Linked DNA regions of Homo sapiens. The protein of the gene in region 2 interacts with the protein of the main gene of each other region in a biochemical or structural test. Each region holds a gene or a part of one and is shown on either strand. Other genes may lie near its edges.

The links. Proteins that work in one complex are often made in the same cells at the same time.
Region 1: the proteins of DNAJC1 (region 2) and SERPINA3 form a complex in vitro, tested with the Homo sapiens proteins (one study listed by BioGRID).

The regions. Positions count from the first base shown.
Region 1 is NC_000014.9:94,607,645-94,615,390, forward strand, and holds the start of SERPINA3 (alpha-1-antichymotrypsin precursor), read left to right. Parts: upstream 1-4,746; 5' UTR 4,747-4,803; exon of another isoform or gene 4,804-4,895; intron 4,896-5,702; exon of another isoform or gene 5,703-5,725; intron 5,726-6,391; exon of another isoform or gene 6,392-6,595; intron 6,596-6,789; 5' UTR 6,790-6,797; coding exon 6,798-7,440; intron 7,441-7,746. UniProt on the Homo sapiens protein: Although its physiological function is unclear, it can inhibit neutrophil cathepsin G and mast cell chymase, both of which can convert angiotensin-1 to the active angiotensin-2.
Region 2 is NC_000010.11:22,000,677-22,008,245, forward strand, and holds the start of DNAJC1 (dnaJ homolog subfamily C member 1 precursor), read right to left. Parts: upstream 3,055-7,569; 5' UTR 2,759-3,054; coding exon 2,537-2,758; intron 1-2,536. UniProt on the Homo sapiens protein: May modulate protein synthesis.

The DNA of each region.
Region 1 (7,746 bases), on a different chromosome or scaffold from region 2:
AATGTGCAAAAATCACACGCATTCCTATACAACAATAACAGACAAACAGAGAGCCAAATCATGAGTGAGCTCCCATTCACAATTGCTACAAAGAGAATAAAATACCTAGGAATCCAACTTACAAGGGATGTGAAGGACCTCTTCAAGGAGAACTACAAACCACTACTCAACGAAATAAAAGAGGACACAAACAAATGGAAGAACATTCCATGCTCATGGATAATAAGAATCAATATCATGAAAATGGCCATACTGCCCAAAGTAATTTATAGATGCAATGCTATCTCCATCAAGCTACCACTGACTTTCTTCACAGAATTGGAAAAAACTACTTTAAATTTCATATGGAACCAAAAAAGAGCCTGCATAGCCAAGACAATCCTAAGCCAAAAGAACCAAGCTGGAGGTATAACACTACCTGACTTCAAACTATATTACAAGGCTTCAGTAACCAAAACAGTATGGTACTGGTACCAAAACAGATATATAGAACAATGGAACAGAACAGAGGCCTCAGAAATAACACCACACATCTACAACCATCTGATCTTTGACAAACCTGACAAAAACAAGAAATGGGAAAAGGATTCCCTATTTAATAAATGGTGCTGGGAAAACTGGCTAGCCATATGTAGAAAGCTGAAGCTGGATCCCTTCCTTACACCTTATACAAAAATTAACTCAAGATGGATTAAAGACTTAAATGTAAGACCTAAAACCATAAAAACCCTAGAAGAAAACTTAGGCAATACCATTCAGGACATAGGCATAGGCAAAGACTTCATGACTAAAACACCAAAAGCAATGGCAACAAAAGCCAAAATTGACAAATGGGATCTAATTAAACTAAAGAGCTTCTGCACAGCAAAAGAAACTATCATCAGAGTGAACAGGTAACCTACAGAATGGGAGAAAATTTTTGCAATCTATCCATCTGACAAAGGGCTAATATCCAGAATCTACAAGGAACTTAAGCAAATTTACAAGAAAAAAACAAACAATCCCATCAAAAAGTGGGCGAAGGAGATGAACAGACACTTCTCAAATGAAGACATTTATGAAGCCAACAGACATATGAAAAAATGCTCATCATCACTGGTCCTTAGAGAAATGCAAATCAAAACCACAATGAGATACCATCTCATACCAGTTAGAATGGGGATCATTAAAAAGTCAGGAAACAACAGATGCTGGAGAGTATGCAGAGAAATAGAAATGCTTTTACACTGTTGGTGGGTCTGTAAATTAGTTCAACCTTTGTGGAAGACAGTGTGGCAATTCCTCAAGGATGTAGAACTAGAAATACAATTTGACCCAGCAATCCCATTACTGGATATATACCCAAAGGATTATACATCATGCTACTATAAAGACACATGCACACATATGTTTATTGTGGCACCATTCACAATAGCAAAGACTTGGAACCAACCCAAATGTCCACCAATAATAGACTGGATAAAGAAAATATGGCACATATACACCATGGAATACTATGCAGCCATAAAAAAGGATGAGTTCATGTCCTTTTCAGGGACATGGATGAAGCTGGAAACCATCATTCTCAGCAAACTAATACAGGAACAGGAAACCAAACACCACATGTTCTCACTCATAAGTGGGAGCTGAACAACGAAAACATATGGACACAGGGAGGGGACTATCACACATTGGGGCCTGTTGGGGGGTTGGGGGCTGGCAGAGGGATAGCATTAGGAGAAATACCTAATGTAAATGACAAGTTGATGGGTGCAGCAAACCAATATGGCACATGTATACCTATGTAAAAAACCTGCACGTTGTGCACATGTACCCCACAACTTAAAGTATAATTTAAGAAAAGAAAGAAAGAAGGAAAATGATGCTCTGAGGCCGGAGAACTTGAGAACACTCAGATAATGCTCTGAGGCAAGATGACTAGTCATCCCCAATGTCCACTCTCTTTGTCTCTCTCATGGTAATGGAACTCTGAATTTTTAGCTGGGAGGTGGCTACCTAGAATCTTGACTGCACTGCACAGCCTCCTTTGTAGCTAGGTATGGCCATGGGACAAAACTCCAGGCAACACAACACAAGTGGGAATGACAGGCAATGTTCAAGGCATTCCTTTCAAAAGAAAGGGTGTGCCCTTCCCTTCCCCTGTGGCCCTTTCTATGGACTGGAAGGTGGACATAGCAGTGAGCCATCTTAGCCTAGACAAACAGACGTGGAGGGGCAGCTGAGCAACCAGACAGGAGGACGTGGTTTCTGACAACGTGGAGGCACCATATCAACCCACTGCCTCCAGCTGGACCTGCAGGAGAGGGAAATGAACTTCAGTCTCATTTTAGCAACTATTTCTTTAGGATTCTGTGTAACTTAAACATATGTATTGGCCAGGTACAGTGGCTCACACCTGTAATTCCAGCACTTTGGGAGGCTGAGGTGGGAGGATCCCTTGAGGCCAGGATTTCAAGACTAGCCTGGACAACACAATGAAACCCTGCCTCTACAAAAAAATAAAAATTTAAAAATTAGCCAGGCATGGCGTTGTGCACCTATGGTTCCAGCTACTCAGAAGGCTGAGGCGGCAGGATATCTTGAGTCGAGGCGGCAGGATATCTTGAGTCCAGGAGTCAGAGTCTTCAGTAAGCAACGAGCAATGATTGCGCCACTACATTCCAGCCTGGGTGACAAAGCGAGTCTCTCTCTCTCTCTCTCTCTCTCTCTCTCTATATATATATATATATATATATAATATATATATAAAAATATATAATATATTATATATGTGTATACGTATATATGTATATATATACACACACACACATAGAGAGAGATATATATATAAAGACACACACACACACACACACACACACACACACACACACACACACATTCAATTCCAAAACTGGGAGCCTGAAAGTCATTTAAGAAAGATGGGCCCAGACAGTTATTGGTCATCTTAGTGCCTTACAGTCAACAAATATGTAAGTCCTCTAAAGATGCAGCACTATCGCAACAGACAAACAAAAAATCCTGTCCTCGTAGAGTGTACATTTAATATCATTTCATTTCATCTTGATTACCACTCTGTCAGGGAATATTGCCTTGCATCTTAGACATGAGGAAATTAAGCTGTAGAGATTTCCCATGATTTGTTTGAAGTGAGTCAGTTGGTGAGTCAGACATCAGAGATTCAAGCCAGGTCAGCTCATGCCAGAGCTAGAACCTCGCCACTGGTCTGGTGGCCTCCAAAGCATGCCCTCTAGAGAGGCCTGTCAGGGCTACCCCGGATGGGGACTGTGACCATGAGGAATCAAGAGGAAGGATTTTTTTTTTTTTGAGACAGAGTCTCTCTGTGTTGCCCAGGCTGGAGTGCAGTGGCGTGATCTTGGCTCACTGCAACCTCTGCCTCCTGGGTTCAAGCGATTCTCCTGCCTCAGCCTCGCCTCCCAAGTAGCTGGGTTACAGGCATGCGCCATGATGCCCTGCTAGTTTGTTTGTTTTTTTTTTTTTTGTATTTTTAGTAAAGATGGGGTTTCGCCATGTTGGCCAAGCTGGTCATGGACTCCTGACCTCAGGTGGTCTGCCCACGTCAGCCTCCCAAGATGCTGGGATTACCAGCATGAGCCACTAGTCCCGCCCAGGATTTTTTTTTTCCTTTTTCATGAGCCAAAGAAAGACCCCAGACTAGCTAAGAGAGAGGCCCAAGGATACCTGAAGGCCGGGGAGGAGGGACAACCACTTGTTGGGGTGAACCAATCGCAGAGGCTCAGCAGGACAGAGGCCAAGGCTGAGGAGGCCCCCACAGAGAAACAGAGCCTGAGGACAAGGGGTTCCTCACAACACCTGTGCTCCCCGAAAGCTCCCCTCCACACCCCTCTCTAGGTGCCCTACTCTCTGGGGTTGGTGAAGGGGTGCCAAAAATGCAAACTGATCCACAGAAAAATAGAGTCCTGTATTTTAAAAATATATCTAGGTTTGTATATGGACATTCACATCACACAGACACACAGACACACATGCAGCCACACACACACACACACACAGAGACACCAAAGAAAAGTGCTTTAGAAATACACCAAAATGTGGCTGGGTGCGGTGGCTCATGCCTGTAATCCCAGCACTTTGGGAGGCTGAGGTGGGCAGATCACGAGGTCAGGAGTTCAAGACCAGTCCGACCAACAAGGTGAAACCCTGTCTCTACGAAAAATACAAAAATTAGCTGGGCGTGGTGGTGTGTGCCTGTAGTCCCAGCTACTCGGGAGGCTGAGGCAGAAAGTTGCTTGAACCCGGGAGTCAGAGGTTGCAGTGAGCTGAGATCACGCCACTGCACTCCAGCCTGGGCAACAAAGCAAGACTCTGTCTCAAAATAAAAATAAAAAATAAAAAGAAATAAAAAAGAAATATACCAAAATGTTAGCTGGGGTCTTCTCTGGGTAGTAAAGTGCTGGGGGATATTTTCCAAAGTCCTTCTTTACATTCTCTGAGTTTTTCCATGTTCTTCAATGAGTATTTAATAAGCAGATAAAAACTAATACAACAAAGGATTTTTTCTGTGTGCTTTTTTGACCTTTGGAGGAAGAGATTAGAGCTAGTCCCATAACCAGGTTATTTGAGTAGGTCTAACAAGCCCGTATTACCAGAAATTATCATCTGGTCATTTCCAGTCCGAGAACAGAACACTTGGTTGTCCTGGCATTTCCCAAGCAGGGGGAGGAGTTCTCTGCAGGAATAAATAAGCCTCAGCATTCATGAAAATCCACTACTCCAGACAGACGGCTTTGGAATCCACCAGCTACATCCAGCTCCCTGAGGCAGGTAATCCATGATGTTTTACATCCTGGGAGCGGAGGAATCTGTTTTTCCAGGAGAGTTTTAGGCAGCAGCCTGGAGTGTGTGGAGTGTGAGGGGTAAGCAGAGGCCAGGAGGAGGTGTACTCAGGTGTTAGGGGCCAGGGGTCTGTTCTTGGCTGCCACTGATTCCCTGTGCCTTTTTTAGAGGCATCCTCTGTGTCTGGGTTTTCACACCTGCAAAGGGTGGAGGTGCCCTGGGGCCTCTATGGTCATTTCTGCCTTGATACTTACAGATTCGGATTTGAGTCAGCTGTGCATCTGACCCTCAGGGAAGAGGTGCTGTCCCCTTGCCTGGAGCAGGGTGCAGCTCTCAGAACATGTGGCAGATGTGATTATTGCAGCAGGTCCCTCTGAGCAGAGGCCACAGGCCTCACCATGATTTCAGGGTCTCCATGGGGCTGCCTCGGGAGCTCCACTTCCCCAAAAGGACCCCTGGCCAAGTCGACAGATGGGCTGTGTCTCTGTCCAGCAACAGAAAAGACAAACTGCTGGGAAACAGCCAGCCCTCCAACTTGCCCAAACAGAAAAGACAAGCCTTTGCCCCTGAAATAATTCTGGAGAAAAATATTGTCTAACATTTATCCAGAGAAATGATTGCATCAGCCTGAGAGTGAACAGTTGAAGCAAACAAGGTGCCTCTGTCCCTGGGCTTGGCCAAAGGCATTTCCACTGGCCTCCCCTCCTTCCCCTCCTTCCCCTCCTTCCCCTCCTTCCCTTCCTTTCCTTCCTTCCCTTCCTTCCACTCTCTCTTCCCCTTTTCTTCTCCTCTCTCTACCCCTCTCCCCTCCCCTCCCTTCCAATCGCCTCTCTTCCCCACTCTTCTCCCCAGCACCCAAGCTGCCCCTTTTCTCTTCTGAATTCTAGGACTGAGTGGGCGGAGGCTGAAGGTGAATAATCTTGTTTGCTGCGGTCACCGGCTTGGAACTCAGCCCTTCCAGGGTCTCTTGTGCAGTAGCTCATGGCTCTTCTCTGGCTTGTAGTTTCAGGAAAGGGGTAGTATGGGAGGTGGTGACTGCTCGGTACGTCTAATATGAACCAGGTGCCTTCATCATTTATCTCACCTGAGCCACTTAACAGGTTGTGCAGAGACGGAAACAGGTTGAGAGATGTACAGTCACCTGCTTGCCAGTACACAGCAATCAAAAGTGGCCAAAATAAAATCCCAGTCCAAGTCTGGGAGACTCCAAAGCCCTCTCTGCCTTCTCCCCACTAAGAGGCCCTTCCAGGCTTATGGTGGACACAGACACCACGTGGCAACCTGGCAGGGGCAGAGAAGAACATTTGCCTTTCTTTGGTCTTGCTGCCAACCATTATCAGGGCCATCGAGGCTCCAGACACTGTACCAGGGACTTTCATTTCCCTCTCTCAGTCGACCCTCACTGCCACCCAGCATCACATCGTGGAGGCCTGTGGAGGCCACACCACGTGACATCTAGAGGCTGGGAGAGTCACTGTGGCCTCTATCTCTGCCCAGGGCTCCTTCATCCCTGGGTTCTACTTTGGTGGCAGTTGGGAGAATGAAGGAAGGGAGCCCCTGCTTTCTAATCCCCTAGGATGAGATCTGCTCACCAAGCAGGAGAGGAGCAGGCATTCTGATTGGACTGAACCTCGGACCCCCCATCAGCTTACAGACCGAGGAGCCAGGCAAACCTGGCTGCCCACTGGGCTCCTTTACCTGTTTGCTGTATGATCTTGGGCAAGCCCCCTCACCGCTCTGTGCCCGGCTTTTCCACTGCAAGAAAATGGCAACAATTATGGTACCTACCTCAAAGGGTGAAATGAAGCAGAGTGATGTGTGTCGGGTGCCCCAGAGAGCACCTACCTGAGGGAGGCTCCAAAGCTAGCAAGAGGCAGCAGGACAGGGACCAGGACGCAGGCTGGGTGGAGGGCAGTGGGAGGTGGTCGGGGCTCCATCTGGCCCTCTGAGACTTAAAGGAGCTTTGCTTTTCAGAGTTGAGAATGGAGAGAATGTTACCTCTCCTGGCTCTGGGGCTCTTGGCGGCTGGGTTCTGCCCTGCTGTCCTCTGCCACCCTAACAGCCCACTTGACGAGGAGAATCTGACCCAGGAGAACCAAGACCGAGGGACACACGTGGACCTCGGATTAGCCTCCGCCAACGTGGACTTCGCTTTCAGCCTGTACAAGCAGTTAGTCCTGAAGGCCCCTGATAAGAATGTCATCTTCTCCCCACTGAGCATCTCCACCGCCTTGGCCTTCCTGTCTCTGGGGGCCCATAATACCACCCTGACAGAGATTCTCAAAGGCCTCAAGTTCAACCTCACGGAGACTTCTGAGGCAGAAATTCACCAGAGCTTCCAGCACCTCCTGCGCACCCTCAATCAGTCCAGCGATGAGCTGCAGCTGAGTATGGGAAATGCCATGTTTGTCAAAGAGCAACTCAGTCTGCTGGACAGGTTCACGGAGGATGCCAAGAGGCTGTATGGCTCCGAGGCCTTTGCCACTGACTTTCAGGACTCAGCTGCAGCTAAGAAGCTCATCAACGACTACGTGAAGAATGGAACTAGGGGGAAAATCACAGATCTGATCAAGGACCTTGACTCGCAGACAATGATGGTCCTGGTGAATTACATCTTCTTTAAAGGTGAGTGTGCCTGGCTTGGGGTTCAGAAGAGGTGGATCTCAGGGCCATTTCTGTCCTGACTCAACAATGGTGTTATTAGGCAAACCACTGTAGAGGAGAGTGCCCACAGCATGGGGGCAGCATAAGCATCAAGGCCCCACCCTGCCCATAGGCATCGCCGTCTCCTGTGGGGTTTTTCCAAATTACAGTTTGTCCTTGGAAGACATAATTCAGTGGAGCCCATCAGCCTCTGGTCTGAGTCAGTGTGGTGCTTTTCACTCTGATTTAAACTTGTCCGGCAAACAGAAAGAAGGAGCTCTCCTTTCA
Region 2 (7,569 bases):
AGGTGGGGCCTCTGTGAGGTGATTATATCACGAAGGTGGAGTCCTAATGGATGAGATTAGTGTCCTTATAAAAGAAGCCCCAGAGAGCTGCCCTGCCCGTACCACCATGTGAGGACACAGCAAGAAGGTGCCATCTATGACCAGAAGGCCCTCACCAGACACAGAATCTGCCGGTGCCTTAATCTTGGATTTCCCAGCCTCCAGAATTGTGAGAAATCAAGTTCTCCTGTTGAAAAGCTGTCCAGTTCATGGCATTTTGCTATGGCAGCCCAAATGGCCTACAACACAACAATTACCCACATGGCTTACTCCCTAACTTCTCTCAGAGGCCTGCTCTGACCATATAACATTTATATTTACTTACTTGGCTGTTTACTGTCTGTTTCTCCCTACTGAATTATAAGCTTAGGGGTTTTGTTTTATATAAAGGTCAACTCCCAATGCTTAAAATCCAATAGGCACCAAACAAATCTCTGTTGCGTGAACAAGAAGAGATTAGTGCACAGAGCCAGGTCACCACTTTCAGCAGCCTACCTACTTTGTTCTGGTCCCTCATGTTTGGCTAGTCACCAAATGGCTCTGGCTTGAAAACTACACATGAAAGACCCTGGACAGGTTGCATTTGTCTCCACCAAATTTCTGGTCCCTGAAAGTCATCTAACAAAGTTAAGATTCAATGTAAAGAAAAAAACTTGTTCCATTCAGTTTCTCTGCTTGGACAGAATAAAATTCCTCCTGGCATTCTTTCCAATTTTAATACAGCTGGATAGAGAAACACAGGTTAAAACAATTTTCTGGATCCTTCTTTTCGGATTCTACCTTGACAAAGAATCTTCTTGATTATCTATGCTTCTTTATTTTCTCATCTTTGCCCAGAGAGTCAAGTGCTCTGGTTGTTCACACTGCCTAATTAACTATGCAAATCAAGTTACATGAAATTATAAATGAAAATTCTATGAGTGTTCACATGCAAAGCTAGATTACATGATCTAAATTTTAAACTGCTACTAAATTTCTGTTCTCTTAAAGGCACTTAATTTTTCATGAATAACTGGATCTTCAAGATTTCTGGATAGATTATGTTTAAGACTCTCTTTACGTACAGAATGTAATCAATGATAAATTCTAATTATTCCCAGTATTAAAGTAGTTCTTAAAAGTCATCAGAGCTTCACTAATTATTTTTACACATACTCCATCATTTGCTTTGAAAATGAGATATATAGTGTATCTATAAGCAGGGAGGGGCACCAGGCAACAGATCATAAATATAGTTATTACAAAGTTGCTTGCACATATGAATCTGAAGTGTGAAATGCCTATACTTTATAACTCTTACAAAAATAAAAAATTGTTTCACTCATGGTACCCTGGCAACCCAGCAATTTTATATTCACTGATGGAATGAAAATGCAATGTCTGAAAATTAAAATTCAGTAAAAGTTCAATAGTTCACCCACATTTATGATAACCTATGGGGGAAGGGGATGTGCATTTCATATCTAGTCATGTGAAGTGTGCCTTGAATGGCAACTATCGTAAACATTAATTTTTTACTCCCATAACTATTCAAAGCATTGTACGAAGGGCTCAATCAGATCGTGTGAAGTGTACATTTTTCACCCCATAAGCCTGAAATCAGCGAAATGTTATCTTCTCCTTCGCACAAGGCTTCAGGTAGAGACTGGATATCTACCCTCACTCAACCACCCTCAATGGTAGAACTAAAAAGCAACAAATGGATTTTACAAGTTAATGTCTTAAGCTATAGAAGAAAACGAAATGAAACAAAAGGAAAAGGGGAAAAAAAAACCCATTCCTACATTACTGACCGGGGGCTTCTCTTCCAATCGCATCCCAAGTCCTTTGCTGCTCAAAAAACTTAACACCTCCAACCTGGTTAGACGCTTCAAATTCCTCCAGATTTCTAAACTGCGAAAGCGAAACAAACATCTACCTAACAGGCTAAAAAGATGACGAAGTACAAAGTAAGAAAAACTTTTGCAACACAGACACTGGCCACAGTGCATTCCTACTTTCCCAGAAGGGAAGAGGAGGGGAGGCAGCTGAAATAAGAATAAGGATGAGGTAAGTATCGGTGGAAGATGACAGTTTAGGGTGAGAAGCGGCTGCTCTTTCTCACATTCAGGGGGACAGGAAGGCAAAAGGTAGGTGTTAAATTAAAAAAAAAAAAAAGTCTACCCACACCACTCTTCGTTCTTCCTCCAGCACAGCTGGAGGGGGAAGGCTCTTCCCCAGAACGCCGGAGCAGAGAGAAGGCATCGCCACCCTAGGCTAGTGGCGCCGTCCAGCCTGTCACTGGGGCTGGGACTAGAAAAGTTGAAGCAGGAGTAAAGATCTGGGGAAGACGGACACGTCCTTCCAAGGCTGAGGACCCCGGTGACCCGAGCTGAGGGCAGCCAGAGCCCGGGGTGACCAAGCCCTGCCCTACGTGTCCGGCTGTCTCTGAGGAACCGGGTCGCCTGACGCCTGCCCTGGCCCCTCTCCGCCCGGCCCCGCGCGCCTCCTTGCTTACCTGCTGCACCCCGAGGAACTGGTAGAAGTTGAGCTGCACCTCCTCCACTAAGTCAAACAACTCCAGGTCTCCGCTCTCCCAGCCGCGCGCCGGCGCCACGGCGGCCAGCAGCAGCAGCAGCAGCCACAGCAGCGGCGTCCGCGGCGGCGGCGGCGGGAACGGCACCAGCCCGAGCTGGCGGCGTCCAGGAAGCTGCGCCGGCTGGGAGCAAGGAGCCGTCATCGCGCTGGGCTCGGAAAGGTCACCCGCCGCGCAGCTCCGTTGGCCGAGAGCTGGGACGTGGCGGGCGGCGCTGGCTGTGGGGAACAGCGCCTGTCAGTGAAAAGCGCGGGCAGGCGCACCGGAGCGGCCCGCCAGGTGGCTGGCCCCAGACAGAGCGCGGAGGCGGCGGGAGCCGGCTGCCGGACGGGCGGGTGGGTAGGCGGGCGGGGCCGCAGCCAGCGCTACGTTCCGAAGACCCTCGCCCCCAGGCCTACACACAGCTGTAGAGGCAGCGCCCGGCGCCTGGGCTGCACAGTGGGTGAGGCTTCCCTTCGCCTCAGCCTATCCCAGGCCTCGCTTCCGGTGACATCATGTCTCCTAGCAACCGCGGGAAGGGGGCGTGGCCGGAAGCCTGGACGCCTGGCGCCCCAGATCTGGGCCTGGGTGAAATGCCTCTCAATCACTGGCGCGCACGGAGCAGCTGTACCTGCGCCCACATGGGCTGAGAGACAGGGACGGTTATAGCCATCTCGCGTCCATCTGGAACGCCCCACGTGGACTTCCCCTGAAATAGCTACTGTCTTCCTCTCCCCTAGCTATCGAACACTAAAAGCATATTTGAAGCCTGATTAATTGATTATGGCTTCCATGCATTTAATTAGTCCATCAGCAAAGAAGACAGGACAAGTTGAACCAGGTTCTAAAAGGGGCAAATCTAGTAAGTAGAGAGAGGTAGAGCAGAAAAGGAATTGAAACCAAAACAAAAAGTATACTTCTAATTATGAATTAAGATTTACAGGCATAATACCATAAAATGACCTGGTAGAATTAACAGTTAATAATGGTGACTCAATCATAGTTGGAGGAGAAATGTAGTTTATCCACCTTAGCCCACCTCCAGTTGGGGTTCCTTTGAAAACAGACCTCAATTGAGATGTTTCTGTTTTAAAAGACAGGCTAAAAACCTCCTCTCCCATAACAATGTCTCACCTTCTAGTCTTGCATTGCTTCTGTTCAAGCTCTTTTCAAGTTATTTTCTCCACCACAATTCTCTTGTGTGGACTTTATTATTGTGTGCTTAGCACAATGCATAGCACATGAGAGCACTCAATTAGTTGAACTGAATCCTGTGACTACCTCCCTACCACCATTCCCCCTACCACAGATTTTTAGTTTATTTATTTATTTATTTAGAGACGGAGTTTTGCTCTTGTTGCACAGGCTGGAGTGCAATGACACCATCTCGGCTCACTGCAACCTCTGCCTCCCACGTTCAAGCAATTCTCCTGGCTCAGCCTCCCGAGTAGCTAGGATTACAGACTCCTGCCACCATGCCTGGCTAATTTTTTGTATTTTTAGTAGAGACGGGGTTTCACCGTGTAGGCCAGATTGGTCTCAAACTCCTGACCTCACATGATGTGATCTACCCACCTCAGCCTCCCAAACTGCTGGGATTACAGGCATGAGCCACCACCCCCAGCCTAGTTTATTTTTGGTTATATCAGTTTTCTTAAAGTGAACGTCATCTTTACCAAGTCCCTAAATTAGGTTACTGTTTATTCAATGAACAAAACATCGAAATAAGATGAAATTAATGATCTTAAGCACTACTTTTACATATTATAGTAACATTCATCTTTTCTCCTAATTTGATCATTAGATTAAGTGCAATAAAACCTTTGAAACTGGTGCCATATTGCCACAAATCTGGGATTCTTACCCCGATCTTGTAGCAGACAGCCTAGTATTTCCCTTTTGAGTTTTACCTTTATGTTGTCTGAGAACCTCGGGGACTTACTCCATCTAAAGATAGCCCATCCTCTTTCTAAGGCCATGCTGAAACAGAATTGGATTCTATTAATAATACTTCTCATGGACATAAGGTATTACTCAAAAATTCATGCTGCCCAGCTCCAATGACACTTGTCCACCCTGAGATGATCTTCTTGCTTGTCCAGGTTCCTGCAAAGACCACAGTGATATTCATATTTAGACTTCTAGCTTGGCCTCTTTACCTATTCAGTCATTGTCCCAAAAATTACAGTGCAATTGAATAAATCTTTTGCTGAGGTCTGAACTAAGGGAGTGACAGTATCCACTGTTTTCTTCCCTGGTGACATGTACTAATTCTGGGCATAGACTCATCCAGCTTGGCCTGGGCAGAGGGAGTTTACACAGAAAAAGAGAAACCAGTGAGATGTTTAACCATCATGTGAGCTGTGAAATGGATTGGAAATATAGAGGAGCCCCAAACATATAGCCAGTTTTCCCACAGGACATTCGCTGAGTTCTGGGGTGGTGCAGGAGGCTGAGCAGCTGGGCGTGATAGGCAGAGTAAAATTACCCCATATTCTACTGCATAGAAAGCTAATTCTGCTTAGAAGGATCCTGCCTCAAATACACAAGCATTCTCCCCCTTCAAGACATTTACACTATTTTTGAAGTTGTATGAGAAGGAGGCTGAAGATCTACGTTTAAAACCTCTCAAAGGCAGAACTGAATCTCAGAGCAGAGGAAACAGCAGCTGTCCAGGCTCTTGATCAAAAGCCCAGAGGAATCACACATGAAGAAGAGAGAGAAACCACAAGAGAACTATCTTACTGAAACCGCACCCCAATCCCAACCCAGCTCATCCTTGATTAGACAGAGATAATCAGAACATCATCCTATTTGTCTATGTTTATCCCTAGAAGAAAATAACATCATCTATATTGTCTATAGATCTTTAATATAAAAGTCTAACATTTGTAAAAAAAAATTATGAGGTGTGAGAAGAGCAGGAAAATTTGACCAACAATCAAGAAAAAAAAAATAATAGAAGATCCACAGATAAGCCAACTATTGAAGTTTAGATAAGAACTTTAAAATAACTATTATGAAATAAAGCCATAGGTTATAAAATAGAAGAAAACATGAACAAGATGGATTAAAATATGCAGAATTTTAAGAGTATTAAAATCCATAAAAAAGAATCAATGGAAAATATTTAACTGAAAAATGTAATTTCTGAAAGGAATATTGCAATGGATCAGTTTAATAGCAACCTGGACACAGCAGAACAGAGGGTTAGTGAATTTGGAGACTGAGCAAGAAAAAATACCTAAACTCAAGCACAGAGAGAAAAACAAATGGAAAAAATAGAACACAGCTTAATAGGCATGTGTACAATGAATAAACCCAGGATAGGTATAACTGGAGCCTTAGAAAAAGAGGAGACAGAGAATGAAGCAGAAGCAATATTTGAAGATATAATAGCCAAGAATTTTACAAAAGTAATGAAAGACATAAAACCACAGATGAAAAAAATATCTCAAAATGAATCCTAGACCTCAATGTATGAGTTAATGCTACCAAACTCTTGTAAGAAAAAAAGGGAGTAAATCTTAGTGACCTTGGGTTAGCCAGTGGTTTCTTATATATGACACAGAAACATAAATGACAGAAGAAAAAAAATAGATAAATTGGACTGCACAGAAATTAAACGTATGCTGCAAACAATATTATCAACAAAGTAAAAAGACAAGAGAATAGGAGACAATATTTGTAAACCACATACTTGATAGGGTACTTAGATCCAGAATTTGTCAAAGATTCTTACAACTCAACAACTAAAACAACCCCCCTTTTTTTGTTAATGGGCAAACAAGTTGAATAGACATTTCTTCAAAAATATGGAAATGACCAATAATCACATGAAAAGATGCTCAACATCTGTAGTCATCAGGGAAATGCAGATCAAGACTACAATGACATGCTACTTCTCACCAAGTAGGATGGCTATAATCAAAAAGATAGACAAGAAAAAGTGTTGAACATGTGGAGAAATTGGAACCCTCTCACATTACCGCTAGGAACTCAAAATGATGGAGCCCCTTAGGAAAACAATTTGGCAGTTCCTCCAAAAGCTAAATGTAGAGTTACTATATTACCCAACAATTCCACTTCTAGAGAAAAGAAACATATGGCCACACAAAAACTTGTACAAAAATGTTCATAGCAGCATTATTCACAATAATCAAAAAGTTTGTAAACAACCCAAATGCTCATCAACTGAAGAAGGAATAAACAAAGTGTGGTATATCTATGCAGTGGAATATTATTCTGCAATATAATGAAATGAAGTGTGGATATATGCTGTGACATCGATGAGTTTTGAAAACATGCCATGTGAAAGAAGCCAGTCACAAAAAAATCACCTATTGTATAATTCCAGTTATATGATATGTCCAGAATAGGCAAACTTACAAAGACAGAAAGTAGGTTAGTAGTTACTTAGGGATAGGGAGTAGATAAGGTTACAGATTAACTGCTAATGACTGTAAGATTTCTTTTAGGGGATGTGAAAATGTTCTAAAATTGGATTATGGCAATGATTGTATAACCCGGTTTAGTATATTAAATACTAAAAAAACACTGACTTAAATATACTTTAAATAGGTGAATTGTGTAGTACGTCAATTGTATCTCACTAAGGCTGTTAAAACAGAAAGAAAAAAACAACCACTCACAAATACAATACACTCAACAAACCCCAAAATGGATAAATGCAACAAAGCAAAGCAAATCTAAGTATATCATCGCCAAACTGCAGCAAAGCTTGTGGGATGTAGTGAAGGCAGTAACTTCAAAGAACATCTGTGGCACGGCACTGTGGCTCACGCCTGTAATCCTAGCACTTTGGGAGGCTGAGGTGGGCAGATCACTTGAGATCAGGAGTTTGAGACCAGCCTGGCCAGCATGGCAAAACCCCATCTTTACCAAAATTACCAAAAAAAATTAGCTGGGCATGATGGCGTGCGCCTGAAATCCTAGCTACTTTGGAGGCTGAGTCA